Linked DNA regions of Homo sapiens: regions 2 and 3 are each linked to region 1. Evidence: fine-mapped expression QTL. A gene starts in region 1. Each other region holds a variant in brackets. All regions are shown on one strand. Distances are between the middles of the regions. Region 1 holds the start of TUSC3 (tumor suppressor candidate 3). Region 2 overlaps TUSC3 (tumor suppressor candidate 3). Region 3 overlaps TUSC3 (tumor suppressor candidate 3).

The links. PIP is the estimated chance that this variant, and not a neighbour inherited with it, causes the effect.
Region 2: its variant is the best candidate, but not a certain one, in a credible set for the expression of TUSC3 in cerebral cortex (GTEx, PIP 0.52).
Region 3: its variant is the best candidate, but not a certain one, in a credible set for the expression of TUSC3 in esophagus muscle (GTEx, PIP 0.59).

The regions. Positions count from the first base shown.
Region 1 is chr8:15,537,155-15,542,154 of GRCh38, forward strand. It overlaps TUSC3 (tumor suppressor candidate 3), which reads left to right and starts at 3,109. Exons shown (of 11, transcript NM_006765.4): 1 at 3,109-3,414. The coding sequence starts at 3,277.
Region 2 is chr8:15,705,764-15,710,763 of GRCh38, forward strand. All of the region lies in intron 6 of TUSC3 (tumor suppressor candidate 3), which reads left to right. Among named protein-coding and RNA genes, the nearest start is that of TUSC3, 170 kb to the left of the region's middle. The variant T/A (reference allele first, on the strand shown) is at 2,185.
Region 3 is chr8:15,605,550-15,610,549 of GRCh38, forward strand. The region is part of intron 1 of TUSC3 (tumor suppressor candidate 3); the gene reads left to right. Among named protein-coding and RNA genes, the nearest start is that of TUSC3, 68 kb to the left of the region's middle. The variant A/G (reference allele first, on the strand shown) is at 2,809.

The DNA.
Region 1 (5,000 bases):
GTCTGTCTGAGAGATTGCTCTGCACAATAAAACTTGGTCTCCATAATCCTTTACCTTAACCTAAACATTCCTTTCCACTGATCCCAGGTTTTCAGATAAACTCCACCAATCGTCAGTCAGAAAATGTTTAATTTTATCCATAGCCTGGAAGCTCCCCTCCACCCCACTTTAAGTCGTCCTGCCTTTCTGAACGAAACCAATGCATTTCTTAAATGTATTTGATTGATGTCTCATGCCTCTCTAAAATATATAAAACCAAGCTGCACCCCGACCACCTCGGGCACATGTTCTCAGGACCTCCTGAGGCTGTGTCACTGGCCAAGGTCACTCATATTTGGCTCAGAATAAATCTCTTCAAACATTTTACAGAGTTTGACTCTTGTCATCAACCTAAGTCAGGGAAGGAGGGTCAACTGATAATGACATCTCATGTGTTTCTAATGAATGCTAGAGTTACAAAATGGGAGACAGAAAACAAATCCCTAGGACCCTGTGGAGGGAGCGTAACTTGGAAACTGAATATAAAGGCAGCATGTTTGGGGAGGATGGGAAAATGGAAGACAGCTTTGAGGCTCTGAAAATTGGTAATTAGAAGGATTGAAGTACCATTGCTTACAATAAAGAAATTACCACAAGTTGGGGAGAGAAAGGGAAAGATGATGAGTTGTGATTATGTTGAGTATATCTAGATGTCAATATTTTACTGATAAAGATAATAAATTTACTTGTCTCCAAACAGACAAAAGTTGAGGCTATTTTTATGTCTCAAGGAAACAGCCAGGAGCCATTGTTTAGGAGTGTTAAAGCAAAAATACGCAAGAGGCAATTAGCCTGGGGTGGTTGTGTAAGTGGAGCTCTTATGTACGCACATAGGAGCTTATCTTGGAAACAGTTCTTGTAACTGACTTATTAAAACCCACCAGCCGCAGGCAATCACAAACAGCCAACAGGATGACTGGTTATACAACTAGGGACCTCCCATCAGACCACAGCCATATAGGTAAATGCCTTATTACACCATGACCAAATAAGGCAAACGTAGCTGTAGCCAATTAGGTAATTTCCTTACTTTGTTTTTATGTTTAGTCTATTGAAGCTTGCTCTCAGGCCACTGGAGCTGAGCTTTCTGAACACTTCTGGTTCAGAGTGCTGCAGATTTATGAATTGTTGTTTGCTGAAATAAGGTGTAAAGTTTATTTTGTCTAAAGTTTTTAACAGGAGTGATAATTCAGGCAAAATGTTCACATAATAGTGGGAAATCAAAAGCTTGCGATACAGAAAAGTGATATATATTTGTAAACTCCTTTAACAAAGGCATCGTAGCATAAGCATGACTGTAGAGCCAGACTGTCAATGTTCAAATTTTTTCTGGGCCTTAATTTCTTTATCTGAAAATCGTTAACAGTGGAACCTAGTTGATAGGGTTGTTGTGGAGCAAGCGTTCTTAATCTGGAGTCCATGAAATTTCAGCATCTGTGAACTTTGTATTGAAAAAATCGTAACTTTATGTCTATTAACCTCACAACAGTTTCGTTTCTTTGAATTATAAAGGCAGGCAACAAACCACAGTAGTATTATCAGTACCTACAACTTTGTTTCCTACAGAAATTATTTTCATACTCAGTAAGTTGTTGCAGATATCTTGAACAATTATACGTATATATTCCTTAAGTATTATATATATAATATTTTTATATTCTGTATATATTTTTGGAGACAGGGTTTTGCTCTGTCTCCCAGGCTGGAGTGCTGTAGCATGATCGGAACTCACTGTAACCTCAAACTCCTGGGCTCTAGTGATCCTTCCAGCCTCAGTCTTGGAATAGCTAGGACTACAAGTACTCCCCACCATACCCAGCTGTTAATTTTTTTTTTTTTCGTAAAGACAAGGTCTCACTATCTTGCCCAGGCTGCTCTCCAACTCTTGGACACAAGCCTCCTGCATAGGTCTCCCAAAGCATTGGGTTTACAGGTGTGAGCCACCGTGCCTGGCTAATACTATGTATTTAATTTCATGCGTTTAGAAATATGTGCTATTTTAAGAAGGCGTCTACAGGTTTTATCACATTACCAAAGGTGTTCATGGCACAAGTGAAGAAATCTCTAGATACTAGAGTAATAAAAACCATGATGCATTAGAACGGATCAGGCCCATATCAAACGTTCAACATACAGTCTGCTGCTATGGTTCTTTTTTTTTTTTTTTTTTTTTTTTTGAGACAGAGTCTCATTCTGTCTCCCAGGCTGGAGTGCAGTGGAGTGATCTCGGCTCACTGCAACCTCTGCCTCCCGGGTTTATGCCATTCTCCTGCCTCAGCCTCCCAAGTAGAGGAACTGCAAGGCGCTCCACCATGCCCGGCTACTTTTTGTATTTTTAGTAGAAATGGGGTTTCCCCATGTTACGGCAGGCTGGTCTTGAACTCCTGACCTCAGGTGAGCCACCTGCCTCAGCCTCCCAAAGTGCTGGGATTACAGGCATGAGCCACCATGTCCAGTCTGCTATGGTTCTTAAAATATTCATAGAATAGAAATTGAAGTAAGTCTATTCGTTTTTATATTAAAAGTAGCTAGTACGGTGCTCTGTACTTATGCACTCCATGGATGCTGAATGAGTCATTGAATGAAGTGGAGTCTAGGTTGTGCCTCAGGCCTTCCAGTGGGGCTGGAAGGAACAGTTGTGAAGTTGTGGGGCGGCTTCTGTGCATCGGGGGACTCTGGAGTTAGATGGTTTCCCAGGGCTCTGAAGGAGAAGAGCTGTGTTCCTAATAATGATCTCAATGGGAATAGAGATTGCTGGGGACCGCAGGGGCCAGGTTGTCATTCCCCAAAGCTTCCCCTTCATCATCCAAGAAGGCATTCAGGTCTTTCTGTGCTAGGCCCCAGGTAAAGTGCTGGACTACCCAGTAATTGGGTTCAGTAGCAGGATGGCCTCAGATTGAGGTCCCAGGGCCAAAGGACCACTCCTCTCCTCAGCGCTGGTCCGGGAAAGGCAAGCTCCGGGCGGGAGCGCACGCCGCGCCCCCGAAGCCTGGCTCCCTCGCCACGCCCACTTCCTGCCCCCATCCCGCGCCTTTCCAGGTCTTCTCCCGGTGAACCGGATGCTCTGTCAGTCTCCTCCTCTGCGTCCTCGGCCGCGGCCCGGGTCCCTCGCAAAGCCGCTGCCATCCCGGAGGGCCCAGCCAGCGGGCTCCCGGAGGCTGGCCGGGCAGGCGTGGTGCGCGGTAGGAGCTGGGCGCGCACGGCTACCGCGCGTGGAGGAGACACTGCCCTGCCGCGATGGGGGCCCGGGGCGCTCCTTCACGCCGTAGGCAAGCGGGGCGGCGGCTGCGGTACCTGCCCACCGGGAGCTTTCCCTTCCTTCTCCTGCTGCTGCTGCTCTGCATCCAGCTCGGGGGAGGACAGAAGAAAAAGGAGGTAGAATGGATCCCCTTGGCCTTCCCCTGTGGGCGGGGGCGGGCCAGGGTGGGCCGCGTTGCCAGGCAGCCCTGCCGTGTTGCTAGGCAGCCTGGTCGCCGGCGTGGGCGATGCCGGCGCTGGGGCGGGAGCCGCGAGGGTGGGAGGCCCTGGGGCGTTTCCGGGACGTGGAGTTAGCAGGGTTCTGACTTGAAAAACGACGGCAAAGCGTGTTCTTGACTGCTTCTGAGCACCTCACACCTTTCAGACCCAGGGCGCCTTTATTCCCAGCTGGAAGCCCAGCTTAGAGCAATGGTGCCACTAAAAGGGGTGTGTTGGATGTGAAAATACCCTTTGGAAGTATTTATAAGCCTGCAGGAAATATGTTTTCCTTATTTTCTTACTCTGCTCCCTTCATTACCCATTTCAAGAAGCAACAGAACCTGTGCAGAGTGTGTTTTAAGTTACACTGTATGTTTATTTTTGTTTATGTTGAACTCGGTGTATACTTGTGAGAATAAGCTTGCATTTTTTATTTTGTGCAAGTACAACAGAACATATTGAGAGTGTGTTTTAAGTTATCCTGTATGTTTACTTTACGTTGAACTCAGTGTATACTTGTGAAAATAACCTGCCATTTATTTTATGTGGATTTATTTCTGAAGTTCATTCAATCTGATTTCAATCTTAATCCACCATTAACTTTGAAAAGGTTGAGATTTGAAGTGACTGGTTGTATTTAAAGTAGGTGGAGTGTTTGTAAGTTCTAATTATCCATCATGGATAGTTGATCTAGCTGCTTCAGCAAAAATAGTTATTTCGGGAATGTGACTAGGGTTTCTAATTGTGGACCATTTTGGTGAGAGTTATCTGCTTACATAATTGAAGATAGTTTTTCCTGGTTAAGTTGTACACCTACACAGGGCTCAAAATCTGAATTGGGTTTAAGATATTAACAAAATTTTAATAGCTGGGTAGAGACAGTGAAAAAATACCCTCATATGCAGAGTGATTGTTTCCCTTTCTCTTTATTCTTAGTCTGAAACAAATATTGTGTGTTCAATTTTAACTAATGTACCTCTCTTCAGCTTTTAAATTTTAACATGAAAGTAGGTCATATGAAATTATTGGTGAAGTTCTGCTAAGGGATTTAGAGAACCACTGTTAAACTGAAATTGTATTTACAAATATAAATTAATGATTTTTTTTAGCACTTGGTATTTGTATACCATATTCCAAGAGTTTTAGATTTAGGAGTTCACGAGAAAGGTAGAAGAGTGAAGAAAAAGTAGACAGTTTTTTTTGTGGATTACCAAAGCAAAGGGCAATAAAAGATGATGAAGAACTCCATGGAAATTGTGATGTTTTATCTCCTAGGACGATCCCTAGGACCACGCCAATTTTCATTTGAAGGGTGTGAACCCCAAAGTATTTTAAGACTGACCTTAATCAATTTTTTTTTTTTTGCCAGTGTTAAGGATGCACTGGTGACACAGCCTCTGGAGGTCCTGATGGCAGGTGCCCAAGGTGGTCAGGGTACAGCTGGCTTTTATACATTTTAGAGAGACATAATACATTGATCAATACATGTAAGGTCTACATTGGTT
Region 2 (5,000 bases), 170 kb after region 1:
GGGTCATCTTCAGTCTGTCAGAGTTTGTAGGTATTACAGAAATAGCTTCTCTTTTGGTTCTCATCCCCTCCTTCATGCTTTACAACTTACATATTATCAGATAAAACTGTGCCGCCTTTCCTGCTAGTGTACCTTGAATCTCTGTGCTGTGACGTAACAGAGGCATCCATTTTACATACTTGTTTTCTTACATTTTAGAAGTTTGGATTTTAGATTCCAGTTAAGTACTCTTTAAAGATACTCATATTATACATGGTTGGATCTCTCAAATTTTAGCTGTGAGTCTGACAAAAACAGTTACCCTTTGTACCTAATTAAACCAGATTGTAATCTAGAGACAGGGGTGTTAACTCCTATTGTCTCAGTACTTCTGATGTATTATAATATTGCATACTGTTTCCCTAAATTTTCAGTAAATAATAAATTACTATTATTGCATATATATGGTATATTTTGGTATATATTTATGTGTTTGCTGTTTATTTTCATTTGAGAGTCTAATAGTGTTAATTCTTTGTATTTATGTTGTCAATAAGTCAATTAAGGAAGCAAAGGAAAAGAAAGTGTTATCTTTTCAAGAGCAGCATTCTATTTTGCAGTGCTTTCCTCAGGAAATGAAAGAAAGATTTCTCATAATCTAACAAGAACATCCAATTCCATGTTAAAATATTGGTTTTAAGTAAGCCAATTAAGAAAGAACCCTTCAAACTTTTCACATGACTTTGCTATTATCATTCAGACAGATGTCAGAGTCATAATATGAATACTTAAAAAGGGTTTGAAGTGTTAATAGAAGAAGCTTCCACTCTGAAATTCTATTTGCAGGAGTAGAGAAAAGATAACAGTATTATCAATTTCGTGTAGCTCATACTGAAATGTGGATTTTAATACAAGATGTTAATATACGAATAAATATTTCATAACTTGAAAATAAAATAATTACGCCTTCTGTATGGGTGAAACAAACTGCATTGAACTCTTGATTGTGCAAATATGATCACGAGCATTTTCTAAGCACTCTTCCATTGTACAATGACACTTTAATAAAGTACTTGTAGAGAAGCATGTATTTCAGCTATCAACTTTATTCTTTTACTATTTTGTCCTTTTAAATTTGGGAAGTTAAGTTGTAGGGCGCAAGAAGTTCATTCAGCCACCCAGAGCAACATAAAAAACTGATAATTAGGAAAATGCTACTTTTGATCATTGAATCATATTATAAGTCATCATTTGTTGCTATAAAAGTATACTTTATGGGTTTTGGACTCCATGTTTTTACCTGACTGCTTTTTTTGAGTTACTATGTCTCAAAGCTTTATCACCATGGGTTAGTAGTTTACTAAAAGTCTGTGAAACTAACCTAATTTTATATCAGATGGTATATTTGAGAGTTAGTCACTTTCATAATGCCTACATAAAGTAATTGAACTGGTAATGTAAATGCATATACAGCTAAAAATGCTTATGCCAAGCTATTCTCAGTAAGCTTTAAAATTTACATTTAAGAAATCTGAAATGTGGTTATGTTGGACTTTTGTTTCCTGTCCTGAACTTCTGCAATAAGCATTGTAATAAGAGTCACATCATATAGTCTGTCTTTTCAGTGATTGAATACAAGAGAAGAATGTCTAAGTTTTGTGCCCTATGTTTTTTAAACCTATATTTTTTATGTTTTAGCAAGACATTTTTGATCATATATTGTGGCAAACACCACCACTAAATACCAGAAATCAAAGCACAAGTCATTTTTCTCTCTTGATGTTTTCCCAGGCCTGTAGGGGAAATGATATGTAAGTAGACAACAGCCATGCAGCTTGGTAACAATCAAATATAATGTTGAATATATTTCTGCGAGAGCAAAGATGGAACAGCAGCTTATTGCCTAGATGACTCTATAGGAGATGTGGAATGGGAAATGGAAAAGCTCAGATGTTTACATTGAAGTGGGAATTTGACATGTGCATCCCTGGGTGTGTGAATTTTCTAGGGCTGTCACAACAAAATGCCACAAACCGGGTAACTTTAAAACAACACAAATTTGTTCTCTCACAGTTCAGGAGGCTGAAGTACAAAATCAAAAGATTAGCGGGGTTGGTTTTTTTGGAGGTTCTAAGGAAAGAACCATCCCATGCCTCTTTCTTAGGTTCTAGTAGTTGCTGGCAATTGCTAGCGTTCCTTGGCTTG[T/A]ATTAATAGATGCCCCACTCCAGTCTTTGCCTCCATCTTCACATCCCCTTCTTCTGTGCTTCTCTTTGTATCCTTTTCTGTCTCTTATAAAGTTATAAAGATACTCTCATTGGATTTTGGGCCCTCCTAAATCCTGAACTAATTAAATCTGTTTCCAAATAAGGTCACAGTCCAAGTTAATTTTTGGAGGAGGACATCATTCAACCTCACTACACTGGGCAGAGTAGCATAAGAAAGTAAAGAAAATACCCAAAGGCCTAGAGGTATGTAAAGTTATTGGTAGATTCAGGATAATAAATGTAGAGGAAATGGAATAAATGGAGTGTGGAGGAATACTGAGAAAGTTGATTGGGAATAGATTAGGAAAAACCTTGTGTGTCACAGGAAGATGTTTAGACTCTGCTGTAGGCATTTGGGTACCAGAAGCCTGTAAACCTTTGAGGTGCATGAGCAGATTTGTATTTTAGAAAAGTGACACACAAAACTGAAAGACTTAAAAGACTAGTCTGAAGACAGAAGTAACATATAATGGCTTCCTAAATGAAAGTGTGGTAGTGATTTAAAAGTGATGATTATTAAACTTCATCTGTGGTTCAGTGAGCAGTGTATAGAGAGGGTTGAAATGATTTTGAGAATGCTTTGGGAGGCAAGTTGATAACATATGCCATAACTAAGAATTTTGGTGGAGAAGAAAGATAAAACATTCAGTTTTTAAACAGAGAATTGGGTTAAACAGTCAATCAACGTTTATTTAATAATGCTTTCTGTCTAGCATTAGTCTAGATACTTTGGAGATTATAATCATGGCTTCTATTTCAAGATCTTTACAAGATACGTGGAGTCATGATACTGATAAAAGTGAAACAGAAAACAGTCCAAATCCGTGTGTAAACTTGATGATTCTGACTGATAAATACATCAGAATTTCAGATTAGGAAAAGATCTGTGTGGAGTTAGGTGCCATAAAAAGGGTTTCCTGAGTCTTATGTAAAGTAAATTAACAACTTTTGATCTAAATTGACAAAGTAGTACTTAATTTAGATTTGATAAATTATATTTGAATTGGTTCAAAAGAAGATAGAACTCCAACTAATAGTTGATCATTAAGCTTGGAAGGCAGATATAAAAATGGTGTTTTTGTACAGGAAAGATAGCCTGACTAGAAGAGAGAGGATAGCCAAATGTTAGATTATATTATGTTTGGGAAGGTATACTGCATCCAACATAATCTGTCTTGGAAGATCAGGTAGGTAAATTTGTATTCACTGCACAAATAATTAGTTACTGTTGGAAAAAAGTTTTTATGTTAGTAATATTAGCTCAACAGTAATATGTAGTTCTGTTATTTTTTAGAAAATAAAAAAGATTGGAGGAATGCCAATCTGAAAGCTTTTACCCCAATCCAAGTATGAGATAAGTCCTGTTAGAGAAATTAGATTTTGTATATTTTGACTACACGTATTTCCTCGTTCTCCTTTGGCTGATTGAACTAGCTCTAGTTAATCCATATTCTTATATGTATTTTATGCCTTCTTCATTTTTGCTCCTCTGACTTACTCATTATTCCCAGCCAGAATTTAGCTCCAGATGAAGCTCCCATTGAGCCATTTATATACTCCATATCTAAGAGCACGGGGAAAGCTTGAATGATGTGAAAATGTGGATGATGAGGAGGAGGATGATGATGATGATGATAAATTACCTTTAATGTGTTAGGAGCTGTATGTGTTATCTCCTTTAGTCCTTATAGTATCCTTATATGAAATTGCCACTATTATCTCCCAATTAGGTAAGGAAAGTATGGCTTAGAGAGGTTAAGTAGCTTGATTTAAATAGGGTTCCACTGCAACTAGACCTGTCTAACTGCGTAGTCCAGATTCCTCATCACTTTAATATAGCATACTGGCTCACCTACATCTTTTCCTTGTTGCAGTCCATTACATTATGGCACTCAAATTCAGCTTCCTAAATTGACCTACAGTCACATTTCCTTTCTATTCAAAAGTCTTCTGTGACTTCCTTATACTTAACAAAATTCATTATTTCTCCCCTATTCCAGGATCCCTCCAAATGTAGTGACAGCCTCTTCCCTCCTGGTGGACTTATCTACAGTCTATACTGTTTTTTACCTTAGTGCGCTCCCCTCCCTGCCCTTTTCGGAGTCCTACCTCCTTTTTCTTCTATTTGCTGAAATGTTACTTTAGGTTTTGTCTGGAGGCTAGAATCATCCTATGATGATCTCTCCCAAGAAACTTTGTCTGTTTCTCCACCCTTCCTCTTAATTTAATAATGCTTTATTTGCTACCACTTATGCTACCTAATTTTTTGCTTGGTTTGTAGTTTAGATAATATATAGTTATTTAAACTGGAATGTAAACTTAAATTTCTTAAAGTCAGAAATGATTGTTTCCTCATTTTTGTGTCTTCTAGTATAGGGCCTCGTGCTATTTAAGCCTAGATGAAATAAAGAGTGAGAGTGGAAATGAGTTCTGACCGAACAAGGGCCTTCATTCTACAGTGAGTAATCAATCTGCAGTTTAAAATAAGCAGATTCATTGAATGGGCCACAAATTCCTATGGCAGGAAAACATAGCTGACATGAAAAAGGAAACACTTGTTTACCTCTCCACTGTCATTTTTCCAGTTATGTTCCAGAGGTTGGCTGAGCAAACCCCCAGGCTACTTATTAAAATGCAGATTGCAGAAAATGGGACCTAGAAATGCACCTTTGTAGCAAGATTCCCAGGTTATTTGAGTGAAATTTCTACAGAAACATATATAGGCATAAAAATGCACAAATCATAAATGTGCAGCTT
Region 3 (5,000 bases), 68 kb after region 1:
TTTAAGATATGTGACAATTTGAAAGCATTCTAAGATGGACTGCATTGCCTTACAAATACCAAAAAAAATGGAGAAAAAAGTCTGTCAAGAGGGCATAAAATGTATATACATACTAGTCTATTTTCATCGTTTAGTACCATAAGATATACACAAATCTATTATAAAAAGGTCAAAACTTGTTAAAACTTAGACACACAGTTACAAATCACACATGACACCACTTGCAGTTGAGGGAAATGTAAACAAACATAAGGTTGCCATATTAAATCACAACTGCATAAAATTAACTGTAGTACGTTATAGGCTACTGTCATAACTTCGTAGCTGCATTCCGTTGCTATTAGGGTGAGCTTAAGTGTTGCAGTAGCCACTTAAAATGCCTTATGACACTGATCATCTCCATGTGAGCCCTTCATCTCTCCAGTGAGTTGCATATTGCAGTAAACAGTGATCACCCGAGGTTCTCCTGTATTTTTCATTCTGTTTAATGTAATAGTGTAAACCTTGAATAACACCATGGGACGCAAACAAAATGCCACTAGGGATGCTGGAGGTGCTCCCAAGAAGCAGACAAGCCATGACATTACAAGAAAAAGTTGAGTTGCTTGATAGATACCATAGATTGAGATCTGTACCTGTGGTTGCTCCCATTTTAAACAGATGATTCATCTTGTAAACAGGTGACAGAAACTTATAGTATGAGTAAATACAATACAGTACTATAAATGTATTTTGTCCTATGATTTCTAAATAACATTTTCTTTAGCTCACTTTATTGTAAGAATATTGCATATAATACATGTACAAAATCTGTGTTAATTGACTATGTTATTGGTAAGGCTTCTGGTCAGCAGTAAGCTTTTAGTAGTCAATTTTTGGGGAGTGAACACTTAACACGTGATTTTTGACTGTGTGGGTGCCCCTAACCTTCCCATTGTTCTATATTATTTCAAATATTTAGCATGTATGTAAAAAAGTTAATGAGTGAATAGGCACACACAAATTGTGGATATTCTTGTAGGTAAGTCTGTTTCATCTTGTTAAATAACTATAATACTGTCTTGTTTCATACCATGTTATGATGTAATCAGATTCCTCTCTGTAGGCATAAATATTATATCCAAATACTTGGAATTATGAACAGTGCTTCAGTGAATATCCTTTTATATTTACGTGTGTACTTTGTCTGATTATTTCTTTAGGATAAATTCCTAGAAATGGCATTGATGAACTAAAGGAAACACACATTTAAAGCTTCGTATGTATTATAAATGTGACTTCTTGAAAGATGTTACCAATGCATAGCCATATTGTATCCCTTGGTACAGTTTTAACTTACGTTTTCCAGTGGTATTTTTAATAAAACATTGTGTGTGTGTGTGTGTGTATGTGTATATGTGTATATATATACTTATAAAACAAAGTACAATGTTTTATAATATTTTAATCCAGTTAATATTAGCATTCAACATGGATGGTATCTTATGTACAGACTACCCGCAAGTTTCAGTAGTAAGCTTTTACCCTGTGCTGTTCTCTCTGATCATAATCCCAAATGTTTTAAAAAGGGCATTTCTCCTGCCACAAATGGTTGGGGGAGAGCGTCTGAACCAAGGAAACGTGTGGACCAGAAAAGAGCTGTGTTAATTCTATTTCTGTATTTTCAGTACATTTTTTTCATTACTTAATTAGTTACACAAATATTTATTTAATGAGGCAGGCACCGGCCTGGTCACTGGGCATACAGTGATGGTAGAGACAGTTCTAGGCTCTCAAGAATTTATAATTTAGTGATAGAAACTTTTAAGTGGCTCAAAACAGTCAACTCCTTTACAAACTACAGTTATAATACATTTGTAAAGTGTGTGTATAGTTTACATACATTTGTAAAATAATTTAGTGTAACAAAGCAAAATAGAAATAAAGATGAGAAAAAATTTTATTGAAACATGTCACCACCTACAAACAATTGTCATTAAGTAAAATTTACTTCTCCTCTAACATTTCATTATGAACTTCTAAAACATAAAGGTAAGCTGAGAGAATTTACACTGAATACCCAGATATCGACTACCTAGATTCCACAATTAACAATTGACTGTGCTTGCTTTATCGCAACTCCATCTTATGTATCAGCAATCATTCTGTCTTTTTAAATGCATTTTAGAGTAAGCTGGAGAAAAGTGTCCTTCCTTCAATATGCATAACATGAACTATTGTTTTAAGCAGCACTGTGTTTCAGTTAAATCTGTATTGATTGACTATATGCTATTAAAAATGTAGAAATTTTGTACTTTTACATTTCCTCCCTAATTCTCTTCCCTGTCAGCAAATATTTGATAAATTACTTTGTCTAGTTATGGAACGTAATGAAGTGTCATATCTTGAATGCCCATATAATTTACCTGAACTGGAATATTTTTGATAAGCATGCAGTGATACAGCAAGTGCAGTTTGGGGTTTCCTTAGCAAACCAGAATGGTGAGAATGTCTATAACAATAAATGCCAGAGTAGTTTATTCTTGGTTTTACATTTAAATGTATTTGCATTTAATTAGCACTATATTCACATTTGGCTTTTACCATAGCTTATTTCCTGAGTTCTTGATTTTGATTCACCTCTTGGCTGAATTTTATCCATAGCTTCTCTTTTCCTGAGTTCCTTATTTTGATTGAGTTCTTGGTTATATTTTATCCTCAAGAGGTTCCTCTCTTTTCCATGAGTGTTTAATGTGTACTGAATTCCTTAGTTTTTTTTTGCTTGCTTTGTTACTTTATATTGGTGCTTTTTGTAAACAATAAATTCCA[A/G]TATAAAATAGTTGTTTGTCTTATAGGGATAAATTGAACAATAGTAGGGACATCCTAGGGCTAGGGGTGAGCCTAGAATCTTATCTCTAATATTACTCAGTCTTCCACATGAAGTGTGATGTAAGAAGTTTCTTCGGAGATTTTTACCTTTGTATATTGATATGGTTTGGCTCTGTGTCCCCATCCAAATCTCATCTTCATTTGTAATTCCCATGTGTCACGGGAGGAACCTGATGGGAGGTGATTGGATTATGGGGGTGGTTTCCCCCATGTTGTTCTTGTGATAGTGCGTGAGTCTCGTGAGATCCGATGGTTTTAAAAGTGGCAGTTTTTCCTTTGCTTTCACTTCACTTCTCTTGCCTGCCACCATGTAAGATGTGCCAGCTTCCCCTTCCACCATGATTGTAAGTTTCCTGAGGCTCTCCAGCCATGCGTAACTGTCAGTCAATTAAACCTCTTTCCTTTATAAATTACCCAGTCTTGGATATTTCTTTATAGCAGTGCAAAAACTGACTAATACATATACCTTTGTACAAAATAACCAAAAGAAATCTTTGATTCTACTCCCAAAAAACTTGACTTGCTCTTGCCATTTGGAAGAAACTTGGTAGAATTAAACACTGTTTAAGTTGATGAAAAACAAGCGTTGGAAATTTTTTAAAGTACATTTAAAACTTTGCTCTTGGCTGATTTTCTGTTGGATTCTATTGAATTTTTCTTTGTTTTGACGATGTAAGCGTTACATATTTTAGTGACTGATTTGTGTGAATCAAGAATAAAGTCACTGAAAAAATTAACTCAATTTTACAATTTATGAGTATAGTTACGGTTTTGTTTTGCCACATTCTGTTAGTAAAAGTTTTTTTCAGCTGTGACACATAATATGTGGCCATTAATAGTGAAGAGTTACACACAATGACTTCTAAAGCAGTGCAAGATAATTTTATGATATAATGTATTACTACAATAGAGTACCTGCTATACTCATTTACACTGGTAATAGTCATCTTGTCTGGATCTGTATTCCCAAGAGAGGCAGGCCAGATGGCTGTGTACAGCTGGAAGTAGATTTTCTTCTAAGCTTTTAACAGCTGCTCTCATTTCTTATATCTGGTACTTGTTTTAAAATGAGATATTTATTTATAAATGAATGTCCAACAGAAGGATATGAAAGAGTTCAAGAAAAATGGTGACAGAAGCTAATGCAGTGGTGGAAAAAAAAATGGGAAGCTCATTTGACCCATTTGATGACTGTCCCTGATTAAAATGACTTCATATTTTGAGTCTTCAGAGAAAGTATCATGATTCCCATTATAATGATACTGTCTCTTGATAGTAGGGTATTGTACTTAAGCAATTTTTTAGTGAAAAATTGTCAGGAGGACAACAAACATTTAAAAAAAAACATGTTTTCACTGTACATTAAAAATAAAACAGAGTAACTCCCAAAACCAAAAAAAGGCCATTTTCAACTATTTACATGACTTTATGACCTATCTTTATCAATAAACATACACTTTTGTGATACTAATATATTACTATGAATATATTACCTTCTATCTTTCCACTTACTGTTATGATATAATTTTCTTACTAGTCACCACATTTCATTTTAGTCTCTGGTATTTTATTGTATTATTATGCTCTTTATTTCCTAGCTGTTTTTATTTTTGTTGCTGTTGATCACATAACTATGTTTATATGGTTTAACTATTTTTCTTTTGGAAATTTTTAAGGTATATTAAGAAAGGTATGATGAATAAATTATAATCAGTTTAATGTATTTTGTATCGTTGTTTTTATGAGGGGCTTTGCGTTTTAGGCACTGGATTTATTTCATAGCATACTTTGAAATCCATAAAATTCCATACATTCATTGATCCGATTTTGTTATTACCACAAGTATCAAATGCAAAATATTTCAGTATACTGCATGATGTTTTCGCTGATAAAATTAAGGTATAGCAACATCTAACATTAGAATTCTTAAAATTATTGCTGCAAGGGAGTAGTTAAGTTTCTCATGGAGAAACATTTCTGGTATTTTCAATGTAGAATTTAATGTTGATGTGTTTCTGTGAATTCACTGCTTCCTTTATTAATTTTTATGAATAAGGAAATACTAGCAAACTTGATTTATTTTAAATCTTTGGAATATTAATTTAACATCTGGCAACAGCAATTCTTAAGTT